Homo sapiens: one gene and its partners. The protein of the gene in region 4 purifies or fractionates together with the protein of the main gene of each other region. This does not show direct contact. Each region holds a gene or a part of one and is shown on either strand. Other genes may lie near its edges.

What was found.
Region 1: the proteins of BUD23 (region 4) and NMD3 fractionate together in Homo sapiens (co-fractionation; one large-scale study listed by BioGRID). This does not show direct contact.
Region 2: the proteins of BUD23 (region 4) and NOP14 purify together in Homo sapiens (affinity purification with mass spectrometry; one large-scale study listed by BioGRID and IntAct). This does not show direct contact.
Region 3: the proteins of BUD23 (region 4) and SRBD1 purify together in Homo sapiens (co-immunoprecipitation; one large-scale study listed by IntAct). This does not show direct contact.

Annotation. Positions count from the first base shown.
Region 1 is NC_000003.12:161,226,806-161,231,733, reverse strand, and holds part of NMD3 (60S ribosomal export protein NMD3), read right to left. Parts: intron 4,488-4,928; coding exon 4,391-4,487; intron 1-4,390. UniProt on the Homo sapiens protein: Acts as an adapter for the XPO1/CRM1-mediated export of the 60S ribosomal subunit.
Region 2 is NC_000004.12:2,948,903-2,953,830, forward strand, and holds part of NOP14 (nucleolar protein 14), read right to left. Parts: intron 4,744-4,928; coding exon 4,609-4,743; intron 3,496-4,608; coding exon 3,373-3,495; intron 2,344-3,372; coding exon 2,212-2,343; intron 2,177-2,211; exon of another isoform or gene 1,312-2,176; coding exon 1,032-1,311; intron 1-1,031. UniProt on the Homo sapiens protein: Involved in nucleolar processing of pre-18S ribosomal RNA. Has a role in the nuclear export of 40S pre-ribosomal subunit to the cytoplasm.
Region 3 is NC_000002.12:45,387,422-45,391,937, reverse strand, and holds the end of SRBD1 (S1 RNA-binding domain-containing protein 1), read left to right. Parts: intron 1-2,338; coding exon 2,339-2,628; 3' UTR 2,629-3,258; downstream 3,259-4,516.
Region 4 is NC_000007.14:73,689,418-73,694,345, reverse strand, and holds part of BUD23 (18S rRNA (guanine-N(7))-methyltransferase), read right to left. Parts: intron 3,431-4,928; coding exon 3,334-3,430; intron 1,751-3,333; coding exon 1,700-1,750; intron 1,018-1,699; coding exon 932-1,017; intron 723-931; coding exon 677-722; intron 355-676; coding exon 296-354; intron 1-295.

The DNA of each region.
Region 1 (4,928 bases), on a different chromosome or scaffold from region 4:
AAAGTGATAACTGATTCTTCCTATCACTGGACCAGGCACCAGACAGCTATCGTCCTTGCTCTTCATTGCTAATTACAGACCATTCTCCTTGTCTCCTCCTCAAATATACCCAGCTCTAAGTCTAAAGTCATTAGACTCTACCACCCGCAACTCTCTTTTTTATAGTAATCTATTCATCTTTGTATCACTTGTTTTCATTTCTCAAAAGATTTTAGCTTCTGGCTCACCATCACACTTTCCAACAATATTAATACCTAGCGATTTCAATATCCACACAGGTGATCCCCACAATACCCTGACCTCTCACTCCATTCTTTGAGTTCTTCTTCTCCCAAAATATTATCCACCTTCCTATCTCAGTCACTCATATGCCTCTATTACCAGTAACTGCAAACCCTCCAAACTATCAATTCCAAACATCCTACTCCCTGACTACCACCTCCCATCTTTCCAGCTTATTTCCTCTAGTTCCTGGGCACCAAATATCTTTCAAGCTAATATAATGGACAATCCATTCATCCTACCAACTTTATTCCTCATTCCTCCTCACTAGCTTCAAAATCAATAATCAAAATTATTCTCATGTACACACTCAATTTCCTTGTTCCCTCTCTTATTTCACCTTAGCCACTAGGCTAAATTATAAATTTGGTTAAATCCAGTGCTCTGCCTGCTCTATGCCTTGACTATGTGGCTGACAGAACTACAGAAATAGATGCACACCACAGTGACTAGTCTAAACTTGTAACAGTAACCCTCAGCACTGCCCAGCACCCATCCAACACTGTCCTGGTGCATTTCCTCTAGTTCTAGAGGACTATTTCATATCTTCCGCTCTCTCCTCAAACATCTATCTAACAGCTCTTCCCACATAGCTACTGCCCACGCTTCTGTTTTCTCCAGTACAAAAGAAGGAACCAGAGGAGAATTCCCAGAAGCTCCCACTCAACACCTTCCCTGCTGTTACCACAGATGAATTATCCATACTCCCATCAAGATCAACCTCCAGAATGCCCCTCTAGAGAGCAGAGATCTTTACTTTGTTCCATGAAATATTACAGCCTCCCAAAATGGTGCTTGGTGAAGAGTAAGTGCTGAATACTTGTTGAATGAAGGAGTGAATTAACAAATAAATGTATTCTTTCACTATGTACTATATCTCTTTTCCACTTATTGAGGCCACCCCCCAGCCAATTATTCTTCTCCCTGCAATTTCACAAAAATTTCCCTCCGTACTCTAACACTCCCAGAGAGCTTACAAATACAGTTATATATACCATCTTAAGAAATGTATCCTGGCCAAGCACAGTGGCTCATGCTTGTAATCCCAACACTTTGGGAAGCTGAGGCAGGAGGATCGCTTGAGCTCAGGAGTTCAACACCAGTCTGGGTATATTGTGAGATCTCTGCTCTACAGGGCCAAAAAGAGAGAGAAAGAGAGAGATCTCACCTCTAGTAAAAATAAAAATCAGCCAGGTGTGGTGGTGCATGTTTGTAGTACCAACTACTTAGGAGGCTGAGGCAGAAGGATCACCTGAGCCCAGGAGTTTGAGGCTGCAGTGAGACATGACAGCGCCACTGCACTCTAGCCTGAGCAATAAAGCAAGACCTTATCTCCAAAAAATAAAATAACATAAAAAGACAAGTGTCCCTTCCCCAACTTCCCCTTCAACCACTGCCCCATTTCTTTGTTTTCGTTTACAGCAAATCTCAAAAGAACTGTCTATCTTCCTTCTCCCATTTTAATTTCTATTTAAATGACATCTTTACCACCACCACTAAACAGAAATTGCCCATGTTATTAAGGTCGTCCACATTACTAAATCTACAGAACTCATTACTTGACTCATCAGCTGCAAATCACATAGCTACTCACTCCTTTCTTCTTAAAACACTTCCCTTTCCTCCCAGGACATCACACTCACCCTGTTTTCCTCCTACCTCCTAGCAGCTCCTTTCAGTCTCCTTTGCTGATTCCTCCTCATTACCCAATTATTTCTTCATCATTACCCATTAAAGGAATGATTCCAGGATTCAGTCCTCCAGTTTCTTTCCTTCTCTATGTAAACTCCTGAAATAATCTAATCCAATTCATGACCTTAAATACTATCTATATCCTAAATTCATTATCTCTAGACTGGACCACTCATTGGCTTATTTATCAACCTGCCTACTCAGTATTTCTACTTAAGTGTCTAGTAGACATCTAAATACCAGTTACAGATGAACTCTCATGCCCCCTACCCAGTGACTTGGCTGCTCAGGTCACGAACAGTGGAAGGCATCCTTAACTCTTCTGTCTCTTACAAAAACACATCCAGCTACATCAGTAAATGTTACTACCTTAAAAATAGATCCAAAATCTGTCCACTTCTTACCACCTCCATTGCTGATCCAAAACCATTTCTCATGATTATTACAAAAACTTAAACACCTTTACCTCCCTTACAACCATTCTAAAAACAGCAGCCAGAGGAATACTAATAAGTCATGTCATCTCACTACTCTGCCCTTCACCCTCTATACTCCTTACACTCAGAGTAAGAAACAGCCCCTATAAGGGCCTACAAGGCCAGACACACTGTGGCCTTCCATGACTTTTCTGGACTCTATCCCCAACTACTTTTCCCCTCACCACTCCGTTCTATTCACACAAGTATGCTCTTGCTTTTGGTCTCTACATTTGTTTTCTTTACCCCTAATGCTCTTCCTCCACATTTCTGCACAGCTTCCTCCCTTACTGTAATCTTTAGTGTTTACTCAAATGTCACCCTATCAGTGAGCCCTCCCCTAAACACCCTTACTTTAAATTTCAACTCTTCCATGCACAGTTCTTATCCTCTTCCTAGCTCCTTTCTCCACAGAATATACCTTTTAATATACCATGTAATATATCCACCTATTTTGATCGCTGCATACTAACATGCTGCTCCACACTGGCATGTTAGTGTGCAATTAGAATACACGCTTTCTAAGACAGGGATTGCCTTATTCACTGCCATATCCCCAACACCAAAAGCAGTTTGGCACAGAGTTGGTACTTAATAAACATCTGATGAATTAATTAATGAACTGTTAAGACTCACTAGACATTTGACAAAAACCCCAAGTATAAAAGCAAAAAACCAAGACACACAAAAAACTGACTTCATAAAAAAACAGAGACAAATGAGGGAACAGAAAGAAACAAAAAAAGTCCTATTATCAAAATCTTCAGAAAAACTTAAAAAAAATGCATCAAGAACATGAAAGACTCTGGAACTTAAAAACATTACTACTGGAAAAAAACAATTCATTAGAAAGATTAGAAGATAAAGTAAAAATCACCAAGAACAGAGGGGAGCGAAAAAAACCAAAAAGGTTTTTTAAAATATGAAGGGAAAAAGACAAAGTTTTATGCCAGAAGCGCCAAAAAGTGACCATCAGAAATTTGTGGGGTTGGCTGGGACCTAGTAGGAAAATAAAGGCAGAAATTTCAAAGAACTATTACATGAAATTTTATTAGAGCTTAAAGGAGAATCAGAAAAGTCTTCAATCTGAAAGAGTCAATTTCAATTAAAAACATGGTAGAAGTGAGTCATAAAGCTTAAAATAAAGAAAACTCATAGTGTCAATCACTTTCAATTTTATATCAGGAAATAAACTGTACTTTAAACAAACTATTTTTTTTAATACATTTATGCACTGACTTTCAGTGACAGGCACAAATATTTTATTTCCAGATCAATAATGACAATAAAAAGAAACCAAATAACATAGCCCTAATATTATAATCCCAATTATGTTTAGTGATGGTTTTACATAAAAATTTCCGTTAAAAAATTATACATGAGATTCTCGATAAATAACAAAGGAAAAAAATTAAATTCTGTCTTTTTAAAGCAAAAAGATATTTTTACTTTTCATAAAAAGAATATATATAACTTTAAAAAGTGTTTGTAGTGGGGTGCTACTGGCAACAATAGTAACATTTAATAGTTACTTTCGAGGCCAGCATGGTGGCTCACGCCTGTAATCCCAGCACTTTGGGAGGCCGAGGCAGGCAGATCACGAGGTCAGGAGTTCGAGACCAATCTGGCCAACATAGTGAAACCCTGTCTCTACTAAAAATACAAAAAATTAGCCAGATGTGGTGGTGTGCGCCTATAATCCCAGCTACTTGGGAGGCTGAGGCAGGAGAATCGTGTGAACCCGGGAGGCAGAGGTTGCAGTGAGCCGAGATCACACCATTGTACTCTAGCCTAGCCCAGGTGACAGTTCAAGACCCCACCTCAAAAAAAAAAAAAAAAAAAAAAATTCCTTTTGAAAAACCTACTCACAAGAATTTTCTGAAAATGAGACCTTTAATGAAAACATACCTATGAATACTGATTTTAGCTGTTTAACTTACCTTACTCAGAGGGGCTTTGATTTTTTTCAAGCACAAAGCAAGAAGTTCCCTGGATTCTAAAGCACACTGTATCCAAGTTCCTGGTGGTTGAAAATACCTAAAAGAGAAGATAACATACTGAAATCCAACATCTGTCAGGAAACACAGAAATTTCCATCTGAATACACAGATATAACCCAAATTATTAACCAGGCATAATAAAACCCAAGGATGATATGAAGCACTTAACTCAAACATATTTTAATGGTTCCAAAACTTTCAACTAGACTAGCAGCTTTAATTAAAAAGGTAAAATTCTGACTGAGAAAGTCAATCTGAAATAACCTACTAAAGTGATCTTATTACTTTAATCACCAAATCACCACTAAAATGTCCAAGAGTCTCTTAAAGCTATGCTCTGAAAAACAGGTGAGAATCATCTCAAAATGGCATTAAAATGGTTTATTATGTACTTCTAAAATGCCTGAGAACTGCTTATTTTTCACAAAAAAAAGGTACATTAGTACCTCACAACACTATAAATCAGCAATAGTTCAGT
Region 2 (4,928 bases), on a different chromosome or scaffold from region 4:
TCAGGTGCGATCACGCACCTGGGAACAGGCTAATAAGGAAATGCCCTCCCACCTTTCCTTGATTAGGAATTTGCTAAAACACCCACAGTTTCAGAGCATCTTGGTGGCAGGGTGCTGGGTTTAGTGCCCAGACTGCTTCAGAAGGACCTGGAAGGAGCCACTGTGAGCCAAGCAGTGTCAGCTCAGGAGACTCTTGCCACCAGAGGGCACTTCACAGAGGCCAGCTTCACCACTAGCTTCTCCTCTGGAAGCGTCTGGCAGGCACAGAATAATTCGGCATTGCTTACTAGAACCTGACCATTTTTCTTTTCTTTGTTTTGAGACAGGGTCTTGCTCTGTCACCCAGGCTAGAGTGCAGTGGTGTAATCTCGGCTCACTGCAACCTCCGCCTCCCAGGCTCAAGTGATCCTCCCACCTCAGCCTCCTGACCAGCTAGGAACACAGGCACAAGCTATTGCACCAGGCTTATTTTTTATATTTTTGGTAGAGACGAGGTTTCGCAATGTTGCCCAGGCTGGTCTCAAACTCCAAGGCTCAAGTGACCCACCCACCTTGGCCTCCCAAAGTGTTGGGATTATAGGCATCAGCCACGCACCTGGCCTGGACAATTTTTCTCCACATACTAGACAAAACAACACTGTATATTCCATCTAAAATGTTACGTGGCCAAACAGGAGGCCCAGGTGGGAACATGGAAGCCTTCTCGCAGATGCTCACCCACCTCCCCAGCCCTGCCCCTCTGGTCCACCACAAGAGGCTGACCATATACTAAAAGGGAGGTGAAGGTACCACTAGAGAGAGGCGCATCTGGCCCATCGGGGGCCGGCCTACAGAACCACAGTCACAAACTAAGATGACCACTCACTCTAAGACCTGGATCAGCAGACACAGGGGTGTGTCCAGGCACTCCCAAGGGCATCCTTGGTCCCCATTCCACAAATGCAACCCCTGGGAGGGAGACGAACACACACAGCTATGGCCAGGTCATAAAGGTTATCCCAGAACCTGAGGAAACCCGCGCACTTGCCCACCTGCGAACGTGTAGGGCAGCTCGTCTCTGGTAGCTTTTCCAGCTCTTTCCTTGCCGCTTATCAACCCTTTCCCAGGAGTCTGCCTCTGCTCTTTTGCTGGCTTCTCGTTTTCTTCCTCACTCTCCACGTTGGATTCCAGGTCCAAGTGGCTATCTGGGCTGTCGCTCTCCTCTGTGTCCTCCCCGCCTGAACTGTCACCTTCTTCCTCGTTGCTCTCAGGGTCACTGGCTTCCTTGCTTTGCTCTTCCTGGACATCTTCCTCGACATTCATCTTTCCATCCTACCAAGAGCGTGGAAACCACAGGGCATGAGGACAGGCGGAGACAACGCTGGACCATCTCACAGCCACATCAAGAGGCTGCCCACATCAGGGCTTTCTACGTGGTTGCAAGGAACACAAACCTGTGTGCTCCATTTGCCCACTGGCACTAGGCCTCCTGCCCACCACCCGCTTCTAGGCTATTCGAGCCGCAGGAGCTACAGGCTGCTAGAGAACCCTGCGGCAGGATGCTGGGCGCGGTTCAGCTTTTGCCAGGGAGCAGCATGGGACTGGGATTTGGAAGGTGTACAGTGGCTGCGGGCTTTAGCAGGAGGAGTGTCTACAGCACCTTCTGCTCCTCCAGGTAACCTAGTGTTTTTATCAGTATCCATTTTCCTGTGTGGATCTCTTCTGCTTGAAACCTGTCCTGCCTATTTTTCTTCCCTGGACCCTGACTGATACACTCTTAAAACGAGAAAAGGGTACCGATTTATAAAGTTCGTGAATTAAAAACTACACCAGTCATGGAAACTCAATGACATCACTCAAAGAAAATTCACAACTCTAGCCTTGAGTTAGCTCCCTCAATAGTATGATGAGGTCATGCAGATAGAATCATACAGTTATTAACAAAAGTAGTTGATGTTAACCGAGTAATCAGTTTTATCTGTGTTCCTTTGAGACAGAGAGAGAGAGTGAGAAAGAGAGCGTGAGCAAGTGAGTGCACATACTATTGTTAAAGTCTTCTCTCTAAAGTTTTAATATCTGATATACCATAAACACCCAGATAAAGAACTTTAGAGAAACTGGTTAAAAAGATTTAAAATTCCCAACTGTAATAAATCCCTAAAATGAATACCAAAAAAATGTTTTTAAATTAAAAAAAGAGAGAGAAAGAGAAAATGAAGGCAAACATCTTACTTTGTAGGAAAGCAAACGCCTGTCATCTTTATCTAGCACGAAGCCATCATTCAGATCATCTGCTGACATATGTTTTGGTTTCTTAACATTTTCATCCTCATCCTTTCCAAGCATTCTTCGAAGTCTCTCAGCCTGAGCAGGAAGGAATGAGATGTCTTAGAGCACACTCTTCCAACATATGGTGAGGGGGCCGTGCAGTCCTGCCCTGGGCAGCGGGCTGGGCCTACGGTCCTCCCAGCTCTGAGGCTGGTGCATCCAGCCTGCTTTCTGCCTGCAGTTTTCAATCAGGCATGCAAACACTAGCTAAGCAGCACATTCCTCATTTAACAAAATCAACTGTTCAAACTTTGTGGCCAATACTCTCCAGTCACCAGGCAAGCCTATTATTCTGAGGCCTTCACAGCCCAATTCTGCTGGCCAGCCCCGACTGGGACTCATCACCCCCTGCACCGAGAGAATAGGAGCCAGGACGCCAAGAGCAAGCAGCTCCACGGCCTCCACTATTTGACCACACACTGGACACGGGAAGAAGCTAGTGATGTGGTTATGTCAAAACAGCCAGCTGAGCCAGCTGTGATGGCAGCCCACACCTGTAACCCCAGCACTGTGGGAGGCCGTGGTGGGAGGATCAGCTGAGACCAGGAGTTTGAGAACAGCCTAGGCAACATAGGGAGATGCTCATCTATACAAACAATTTTTGAAAATTAGCTGGGGCCAGGCGCGGTGGCTCACACCTGTAATCCCAGCACTTTGGGAGGCCGAGGTGACTGGATCACCTGAGGTCAGGAGTTCAAGACCGCCTGGCCAACATGGCGAAATCCTATCTCTACTAAAAATACAAAAATTAGCCGGGCGTGGTGGCAGGCGCCTGTAATCCTAGCTACTCAGGAGGCTGAGGCAGGAGAATCACTTGAACCCAGGAGGTGGAGTTTGCAGTGAGCCAAGATTGTGCCACTGTACTCTAGCTGGGTGACAGAGCGAAACTCTGTCTCAAAGAAAAAAAAAAAAAAAGGTATTCATGAATAAATATAAACTTTAAATAGACTAAAATATTCCACTGATCAAACAGAGTATTCTCTTCAGCCCATCCTGCAAAATGGAGCAGAAGGGGCTGTGGACGGACAGCAGCACAGCCCTGCTCCTGAGGTGCTGCCACCCTACCTCCAGCTTCCTGAGGTGCTCCTGCTCTTCCTTTGCCAATTCTGCCTCCGTCTTCATCCTGTTAGAGGGCTGCGCCTTCATTTCAAAGCCAAGCTCGCGAACCATCATGTCATATGCATCGGGCTAAGGTAGAAAGAAGAAATTCTTCATTTTAAAAATATATTTATTTCTTATTTTACAAAAAGAAAAGATCTAGCTTCCTGGCACATTCTAGTAATGGCTAGATAATGTTATTGAAGTAGCTAAGCCACATCTACGTCTTTTCTTCTAGAGAGAAAACTGTTCTGATAAGCCCTGAGGATTGCGAAATCAGTGGACATTCGGTCACAAAGAATTTGTTTACCCCTAGAAAAATTCTCAGAATACATCTGCTTTAACGAAAACAGGCCAGGTGCAGTGGCTCACGCCTGTAATCCCAGCACTTTGGGAGGCCAAGGTGGGCAGATCACGTGAGGTCAGGAGTTTGAGATCAGCCTGGCCCAACATGGTGAAACCCTGTCTTTACTAAAAATACAAAAATTAGTCAAGCATGGTGGCACGCGCCTGTAATCCCAGCTACCCGGGAGGCTGAGGCAAGAGAATCACTTGAACCCAGGAGGTGGAGGTTGCAGTGAGGTGGAGGTTGCACTACACTCCAGCCTGGGTGACAGAGCGAGACTCCGTCTCAAACAACAACAAAAACGCTACTTATCCAGGCATTACGCCCTAAACGTGGGAAACTAAGTAAAGTAACGGTAACATCAAGGCTGACTGACAAAGATGCACAGATGACCACATGACACTAATCTGCTGGGATCTAGACTTCTCTGAGAACGCAGTTTCTTAAACAAATGCAGCATTTTCCAATAGTTTCGACTAAAGAGAATGCAGTAGGAAACAACTGTTTACAGAGGCAAAAATAAGTAAATGTATATTAAATGTATGTATTATGTATCAACAGACAAACATGTCACAGGGAAGTTCAGACACCTATTCTAACGTGTCCACCCTGAAGTACTTCTTCCATCCAGAAACACCACTTTTTTCAGTTTAATTCACCTGCAATAGAGACTCAAGTAACTGAATCTACTTCCACCCCAAGATTACACACAGCAGGTAATTCAGTATCAATGTTCAACAGAAACTTGCCCTAAAGGAGACAGGTAGAAGAGCCGTCCAGCCCCAGCCCTTTCTCTGGAGAAAGTCGGTCACCCAAGCTCAGTGAGTGAAGAGTTTGTTTCAGTACTTGGCTCCCACCTTGGGTTTTTCCTTTTTGTCTCTGTTCTCTGACTTGGGAGTTTTGTGGGACAGGAGAGTCTGAATTTCTTTCCAGTCTTGGTCTAGCTTCTCCGTGAGCTCGAGGGCATCTTCTCGTTGAGCTTGTCTCTCCCTCTGGGGAAAAAATAACAGACACACACCACATACCGTTACTACTGGACTTCAACCCAGAGGCCCAATGTCAGTGCCAAGGACACACACAGTGATCACTCAGTTGGCACCAAACGTTTCAACACAGAAAAGAGGCCAGGAGAAATGAGTATTTTAAATGCAAAGCTACCAAATCTCATCAGACGGAA
Region 3 (4,516 bases), on a different chromosome or scaffold from region 4:
GGTTCTCAAAAATACTGGATTTGGAGGTGGTATGGCTGCACCCTTTGCATTAGAGGGTTGGCAAAAAATGCTGTAACTGCAGGTATCCTGTACTGGATTTTTCACATCCATCTTCATTTTTCTGTCATAGTGTCGATTGTTCCATTATCCCAGTTGCATTGTAGACTCAGAGCAAAGATCAACACTCAAATTATATGGTCCAATTAAACTACCAAGTTGTTGAGCAAAAAGACAGATGCATCTGGGCTCTGGACTGAGCTTTCCACTTACTGCAGTGTTCTATCAGTGTGGCAAGTGAAGTTTTAAATAGGTCTCTTTAAAAAAACTTTGGAACTGACCTTTGCTCTAATGTAAGTCACAATTTTCAAAATGTCTGAGAACTTTCATCTTACTACTAAACACATACCCAAGGTGAGGAAGGCTTACAAACTATACTTTCGAGGGGGCAGATAGTATTTTGGGCATTTCCACGTGATGATATTTTATGTTACATCTCTTTTCTCCATTTTCTCAAAAGTATTTCCTTTCTTAATGCCTCATTCTTTACTCATAATAATTCTGTCTTTTGTTTTGTCAATGGTGTAATTAATTTCATGTGTATTAACACTATGGTGACTAGTTAATTTCCCTAACTGGGTTTATTAGAAGCAGTCCAGACACAGGGGCTGAAAATGCTTGGCTATGAAAGTGTTAAAGTTTGCATGGTACACAGAGGATTTTCTGATTTCTCAGTGTCCCCAACTGTCTTCAGGAATATGTTAAGTAGTTCCTGACTCTGATTTTCCTTGCAAGATTAAACTAAACAGCTGATCAGGAACCCTTAGGGAATCTGCAGCAGCTGGACCTCCCCAAGAAAAGAGAGAGAGAGAAAGAATTTCCAAGCATAAAAACAATGCCTATGGGGTCTCGGAGACCCGTCCTACCTCTGCCCCTGATCAGTGACTTAGTTCCACTTTGCTTTGACACAGCCTTAGCCTGGTGTAATATTACATTACAGTAGGTTTCTTGCTTTTGGAATTCACTGCTTTAGCATCAGGTAAAATTCCACAGAATCAATTCCAATTTTAGCGTACTCATTTTTATGTGTACAGTGAGATTTGGAGTTTAAAGAAGGTTTTTATTTTGTTTTATAAGAAAAAGCTTAATTTTTAAAACGTCTTGGTATCAGTATGGTTGGACTGGGGGAAGGGAAGAAAGGGGTGACCAGTTGTTAATACAAATGTAAAGGATAGCTTTAACAAGTCATCAGGATAAAGCCAACAGCTGTGGAGGAAAAGGAAATGGAATGGGTGGAGGGGAAAATGAGGCCTTAGTAAAAGGAGATCCAAGCATAGAATGTGTTCTTTGTTATTAGAGTCAACACTCAGTAATCCTAGGAAAGGGGGCCTTCAGGAGGAGCATGGATAAATGGAGTCCACAGATAATCCACAGCCCCGTTTAAACTGTTAGTTCTAACTCTAACTGTCTCCCTCATAAAAACCTTTGTTTTTAACTAGAACCATAATGATTCCTTGGCATGCTTTATGCCTACCTTTTGGACAATAATGAACAAAGAAATGTATGCTGGGGTGAGCAAGAAAAAAGGGCTATAAAGAACTTGGAAACAGAAATCTGTATCTTCATCATTGTTTCTCTAGCACCCAGCAGAGTGCCTGGCCAGGAGATAATAGAGTTAACAAATGTTTGATGAATTTAATTGAAAGAAGAGAAAGAATATTAGATACTACCTGGTCTGGGATTCTGAGCCATAGATAATCAAGAATCCATAAATGTTGATTGGATAAATATATATGAAATAGGTGGGAATTGATTTTCTGAGTTCCAAATTTGTGGGAAGAAGTGAGGAAGAAAGAACATTTGAATTTCATCCACATTTGGCCAAAAGTTGATGTACTTTCTACCATCTTTAAACAATTTAATAATCCAGGCACTGGGGGAAAAACCAAAAAAAAAGCTTCCAGTCTCTTGTTTCCAAAGGTCTTACTTTCTCAGTGTTTGTGGTTTAGCTTTGTATATTTGTTAAGCAAATATATATTCTCATCACCTCTTCACAAAGAGGAAAATAAGACTGTCTTCTCGATCCTTATGTATAATGCTAGTGTGTAGCATTGTAGAAGGAAGTAAATTTTCTTGAATTGTTTCTACTGCATGAATGCTGTCTCCAACTGATATGCATGTTCTCTGAAGGCAAGCGTTGGTCTGCAGCTCCTTTTATAATCCCCCCTTAATCTTTAATATTGGTCTGGGCACATAGTATGTAGTAAGTACTTATTCACAAAGTTATGTTGTATCTAGGAAGTACAATGCCTTATTTACACTTACTTTTTTTCTCTTACAGATTTTGATAAACCTGATTTCAAGAGAAGCATAGTATGCCTGGAAGATCTGCAGATTGGGACAGTTCTTACAGGCAAAGTTGAGAATGCCACTCTCTTTGGAATTTTTGTGGATATAGGAGTGGGGAAATCTGGGCTGATTCCCATACGAAATGTAACAGAAGCAAAACTTTCAAAAACAAAGAAGAGAAGAAGCCTTGGACTGGGCCCCGGAGAAAGAGTGGAAGTCCAAGTACTCAACATTGACATCCCCCGATCTAGGATTACTCTGGACCTCATTCGGGTGTTATGAGTATCCCACGAAGGCCAGACGCTGATTTTATTTTCTCATTTCCACAGATTGACAAGGATAAGTCAGTTGTTTGTAAACTCTAGGTAGCAGATGAGAAATAATTCACTTAATATCAGAAATATTTTCCAAACACTTTCCTTTATTTTTTCTTCTGAATAAATAGAAAACCAACAGTTTGATTTCCTTTTCCCTTAAAGGAAACAACTAATACACATTCTTATATGGCTTTATGTAGTAATAGTTTTCTGACTAAAATTTTGTTTTTTATTTTTTGTAATTTATCTTTAACTCCTTTTGCATTTTGTATAACAGATTGCTTAACTTCTACTTGCCAACATCTGCCTTGCTGGACTTGTATGGGATTGTCTTCTTGATTTGAATTGTACCGTCTTTGTTGACACAGTAGGGCTGGGCAGTGTTTAATCCTTCCATTTTATAGATTTTTTTTTAATCAGGCCTTTTGGACTTCATTCATAATTTTGCAATAATCTCTTTTCCCTTGTCATGCAAGCCAAAAATATACCAGTAAAACAGATTCTGACGTGTTTGTAGTTATCAAATGAATGGCTCGAAACACTTCTCAAAAGGATATACGTATTGACCCCAACAATAAATGTTTGTGGCTAGTGACTTGTTTTTTGCTATGTTGATTCAGTGAATGACCTAGAAGTCAGTCTTGATGAAAAAAGATATGGTTTATGCAACCTTTGGAGAAGAGGGAAGCCTTTGAAAATTTGAAGAATGGTTTTGTTTGATTTAGCATAGAAGAGTGTGTCCTTTCTTAAATCAGAATTAAACTTCAAATGGGGATAGAAATGGCCGTTTTAAAGATCAAATATAGATCAGGTGTGAAGGGACAAGAAAAACAAGTATATAAAGGAAGTGACTCTTATTCCATTTTTATTTAGTGGAGATGGTAAGGATTAGCATGACCATTCAGGATCAAAATAAAGCCCACAGTGGACTGGTATCCTGTTCATTCTGACTACTGCTGCTGCTGTTGATTTGCCTGATGAAGATATTTGTATGACTGAATGAGTGTCTGGTTTTCTCCATGCGTGATAAGTAGGGGATAGTTACTAAAGACGACCAGTCTTGTTCATTTGCCTAGGAAACACCCATTGTCCTGGCATAATTTTTAATATTGCCTCTTTTTATTCTCAGAGTGCCCCATTTTGGATGATAAATCATATGGTCAACTAGTAGTAGTCACTAAGTAGTGACTGTGACTATGTTTCGTGATAGTTCTACCTGGTGGTTTGCTGTTTTCAAAATACATATCCAACTGGTGTATGTAGATCTTTTTAATGCAGTAGGTTCCTTAAAAGTTGCATATATCAACTTTTTTGATATATACAACTATTTGCCTAGCAATTTCATTTCTGAAATGCTTTTCCTCTGTTTCTTAGTGGTCTTTAACTGATAGTGGATATATCTTAATGTTATAACTTTAAGTTGATCTTCCTACTCACTCCTCCCAATATTCTTCCAGGTTCATAATCTATAGATCAGTAATGAATGATGTGTACCTGAAGACTCTTACTCTGAAGCTCGAGATACAAGTTCACACGAATTCTGTGGGGGAAGAGGCCTTCTCCCTGGTCACTTCGGATATAGGAACAAGAAAAGTTGACAGTGTAAAGCTGCTCTGTTGACCTGGCAGCTAAGCTTTCATGGACACAATAAGGACTTGACATTGCACTAGATTGCATAGTTTGTCCCATCCAGCCCAAACATGGTGGAGGCTGGTATAAGGCCTAAGCTATAAAATGAGGAGCCACATCTCATTTATAACTGCAAAGTGTGCATGGTGATGCATTATATTCTATTCCTAGTCCCTATTCTACTAGTAATCCACAGTGTGCCTTTGAGCTGGTATCTTTACTTC
Region 4 (4,928 bases):
GTGGAGGGCAGCATCAGAAAAGAAGGAGACAGCCTGCCAGGCGTGGCAAGGGGAAGGGGCATGTGTGGGCTCACAAAGGGAGTCCAGGCTGCATGGCTGCACCCAGACATCCAGGACCCCAAACCCCTAGCCCCAAACAGGCACAGTCCAAATGGGACCTGATGTTTCTACCGTCACCTTGGTGTCCCTGCTGCATGTGACCTGAGAGGCTTGGGTGAGGGCAGAGAGAAAGTCCATGTCTAACAAATGTGGCAGCCCCCGCTGCAGCCGGGGCAGGCTTCAGCAGTTGCTTTACCTCTCATTGGTGAACACAGACTCCCTGGGTTCAACTTCATCCTGATTTTCACTCAGCCCCTGCAGGAACCAAAGTGCACTCAGGTCACCCTGGAGAGTTCTCAAACCATCTGCCCCACTCCAGAAGCCCAGGCACCCAGGCCTGACCCTTCCGACAGGGACGAGGTCCAGTCCCACGAGAAGGAACTGACACGCCTTTCTGGGACCTGCAGAGCAGAGGTCTCTGCCTCCAGATTCCAGAGGATGTGAGCACTCCAGGGTCTGCACTCTGGGGCTGGGCCCTGCTTCCCCACCAGTGTTCTCCCAGCAGGCTCTGCAGGCTGAGCCCCACTGCCTGGAAGTCAAAAGACACAGGCCTGCCTGCAAACCCAGTGTCCCTCACCTCTGGTATAAAGGTCGAAGGCCCAGAAAACAAGCAGAGGTAGAATCTGAAAGGAGAAAGTGCAAAGTGAGGGTTGGGTGGAGAAAGCCCCACAGGGAGACAAGCCCTCAGCTCCCCCACCCGCACCCCCTCCGCCTGCCTGGACCCTGGTGACCCACACCCCAGCACTCCTCTGCACCACTGAGTGGCCTGAAAGGGCTATGCCACTACCCTCCCTCCTGCAGCCCAGGCAGCACACCGGCCCCCAGCGCTCACTTCTTTGCTTTGGCACTGTTAGGGTAGTCTACCACCATGCCACCGGAGAAGCCTGCCTTTGTGGCCTGGGTTGTGATCAGCTCCAACTGAGGAAAGAAAGGCAGCGGGTCAGGCAGCGGAGGTTGAGAGGAGCAGACAGCTTCACCTCCCTCCCCTCCTTCAGAAGCCAGTCTGCTCCAGGACAAATCCTGCCTGGGAGAACTTAAGGTCGCTGTAAGCCACGTAGAGAAAAGTACAGGCTAGAATCTGGCATGGCCCACACCTCCCTCAGGAGAATTACAGAACAAAGCAACTCCCCTCATTCTCACTTTCCAGTGCAGGGACCCAGCTCCCCACTCAAGTTTAGGGAGATGGCCACCAATTGGAATCCAGAGTCATTCATGTTATTAGTCAGGAACAGCTCTTCACTTATCTTTCAACATCTACATCCTACTCCGCCATTCCTTAATTTATACATCACACAACGGAGAACTGTCGGTGCCCTCTCACCCTTCCTAAATGGCATTTACTTATTTGGTTATGGAAATCAGTCGCATCACCTTATCTGTAATACCATGTCATCTGCCAAGAGAAGGCATCCCACCCCACCTCCGCAGATGCCACCCCCTTAGGATATCAGGTCATCAAATGTGCCATCAGGGGCCACACTAGGGTGCATGTTTCCTCCTTTTCCCGCCAATCTGCATAAGATTCTTTGTCGCTTCCCCAGGACAGCTTACCTGTTGAGTCCCCCAACTCCCCGGCACACCCAGTAGCCGAGGGACTCACCTGCTCTGAGTTCTCAGGGTACAGCTGCAGGACAGCTCGGGATCCCCGGACCTGAAAGAAACAGGAACATCACTGTCTTACAAATGACTGCATGAGCTTAGGGCCTGGACACCCCTCTCTTCCTTCATTCACCAAGTATTTCCTGAATTTCCATTATGTGTGAGGCATTGTTAGGGCTGGGGATAGTATGAACAAAAGAGATCACCCTGAACTTTGGAGCTCACATTTTAGTAAAGGAGGCAACTAATTCACAGTAGCAAATTTTTTCTTTGTTACAAAAAGAGGAATTAGACAAAGTGACAGAGTTTCCTTTCAGTTCAGTTTACTTTTGGTTCCAAAAAGGCCTGTTTCAAATGGATACTTGAGCAGAGATTTGAATGGAGTGAGGAGCTGGCTATTTAAACATATAAGGGAGGAGCCTTCCAGCAGGGAGAAGAGGAAACACAAAGGACCTCAGAACTAAAATATTAACCCAGTGTGCCAGGAGGAGAACTCATGTGACACACAAGACCAGCGGCCAGATAGGCAGGCGCAGTCCACCCCAGGAAAGGCCAGCGGCCACATCAGCAGGGGCAGTTCACCCCAGGAAAGACCAGCGGCCACATCAGCAGGGGCAGTTCACCCCAAGAAAGACCAGTGGCCAGATCGGCAGGTGCAGTCCACCCCAGGAAAACTAGGGGTGGGCTAGACCAGGCTAAGGAGGCAAAAACCACTCAGATCCTTCAAAACGGACTCATTTTTAAGCTGGGCACAGTGGCTTACGCCTATAATCCCATCACTTTGGGAGCCTGATGCCAGACAATTGCTTGAAGCCAGGAGTTTAACACCAGCCTGGGCAACATAGGTAGACCCCATCTCTTAAAAAAAAAAAAGTAAAAAATTAGCCTGGCATGGTGGTGTGTGCCTGTAGTCCAAACTACTTGAGAAGCTGAAGCAGGAGGATCACTTGAGCCCAGGAGTTCGAGGGCGCAGTGAGCTACGATCACACCATTGCACTCCATCCCAGGCAACAAAGCAAAAGTCTGTCTCAAAAAACAAAATTTAAAAAGAACTCATTTTTAGGACTTAAAATCTCAGACTATCAGCTAATCCTAGTGAACAACTGAAATTAACATCATTAATTTGAAGACAAAGCTAATAAAGGCTCTCTTTGCAGTAAATAACTATCCTGTTCCTCATCCGAAGAAAAGGATCAGCACTAGGAGGAGGGATAAGTGAGGAGTCAGAAGGATGTGGGCACTTTGGAAGGTACCCCTCTGGATGGTCCGGACACGACATCTCTGTCCTCACTCTGCTCAGTCCATGCCCCCAAACCAACTTCTGATTAAAACTCAGCGCAATAGACATAGGAATACCAATCAACAGAAGTAGGCCCTATTACAAGTTAATAAATTGGTCTCCGATTTTGGTATCAGTGACTTCTGGGTTTGATTAGAGTATATCAGTCCACTGAGCTTGAACTTCCATTTAGGCTGAGGACCTGGACAGAAGTAACCACAGTAAGGTCCTGCCACCCCATGCGGTCCCATATGAGTAGCTTACCCATCATGGGACACCTCAATTTCCTCACTCTACCTGCAGTGCTAGGGAGGGACAGGCAGCTAACCCAGATGGGGAGAAGATCTTATACTCACGAGAACAGAAAAAAGAGAAGCAAAAAAGCAGTACAGGCGCTTGGCAGGGTTTTCAGACTTCTTGTTAGCATTACAGAGCCACTGCACAGCAGAAATGCTAAAAAGGAAGGGACCTAGTCAGGCAACGGAGCAATCCACGTTGCTCCCCCAACCACTTCAAGCCTCTTGACATCATCCGTCCTGGCTCTCCAAGAGAAACCCCTCCTCCCACAGCTTCCCTTCTTAGAAAGTGCAGGTTGAGGCCACGTACAGTGGTTCAACGCCCTGTAATCCCAGCACTTTCTGAGGCCAAGACAGAATTGCCTGAGGCCAGGACTTCAAACCAGCCTGGACAACATAGCAAGACCCCATCTTTACTTAAAGTATTTTTAAATTTAAAAATTTAAAGACAAAAAAAGTGCAGGTCCACTGCAGGTCATGACTCTACAACACTGGAAAAATAGGACATACAGAAGGACAGCATTTATGTCCCATAGTCCCAAGAAACCTTTCCTCCACCTTGTTTCCATCTGCATCTTGAGTTGAAAAGTCCTCCGTGTCAAGGCTGTCTGCCCACACACCCCTCCTTGTTCCCTTCCTCCAATCCAAGGAAACAGGCTTTAGACTACTCACATACACACAGCCATCCCATCACCCTTCCTCCTAAATCACTCCCTTCCACTCTACCTGTTAAGTGTCTTTACAACCCCCAGATTTAAAACCTCAAGCAGCCAGGTGCATTGGCTCATACCCGTAATCCCAGCATTTTGGGAGGCTGAGATGGGTGGATCACTTGAGGTCAGGAGTTCGAGACCAGCCTGACCAACACGGTGAAACCCCGTCTCTACTAAAAATACAAAAATTAGCTGGGCTTGGTGGCATGTGCCTTGAATACCAGCTGCTCAGGTGGCTGAGGCAGAAGAATCACTTGAACCTGGGAGGCAGAGGTTGCAGTAAGCCTTGTGCCACTGTACTCCAGCCTGGACAACAGAGCAAGACTCCATCTCAAAAAATAAATAAATAAAACCTCAACCAGTCACTATGTCTTCCTTCCTGCCCTTCCCCTCCGCCCTGCTGTACACACACAGAGCCCTACCTCCACCCCACTGGCTTGTCCCACAGCCTCTCCCAACTTTCACTTCCCCGCACCAATGCTCAGTGCTACCAGCTCAAATGCTTCCACCTAACTCTCTCTCCTCTTTCACCAGAAAATCACCTTCCTTAAACACACATCTGATCCCGTCACCTGCCAACTCCCCATCATCTACTCCATCAAGCCCAAACTTCTTAGGACACACTTAAGTGCCTTCTAGGAAGCAACCACACTCAACCCCATCTTCCGTGGAATCTCTCGTTCATCCCTCTCATCTCAGACCCCTTTCCCACCGGCATCTGTGCCTCTGCCCACTGTTCCCTCACTCAGAAACCCTCTCCTTGACTATCCAAATTCCTCCCAGCCTTCAAGGTGCAGCCCCTCCACCCAAGGCTTTCCTGTGCTCTGGCAGCCCCATGACTCCCTAGGGCACACACCACTCATGCCCTTATATTCAGTTGCCTGGTCCATGTCCTAAAGCACCTAATAAACCGTGGAGAGTCTTACACGCAGAAACTGTTTC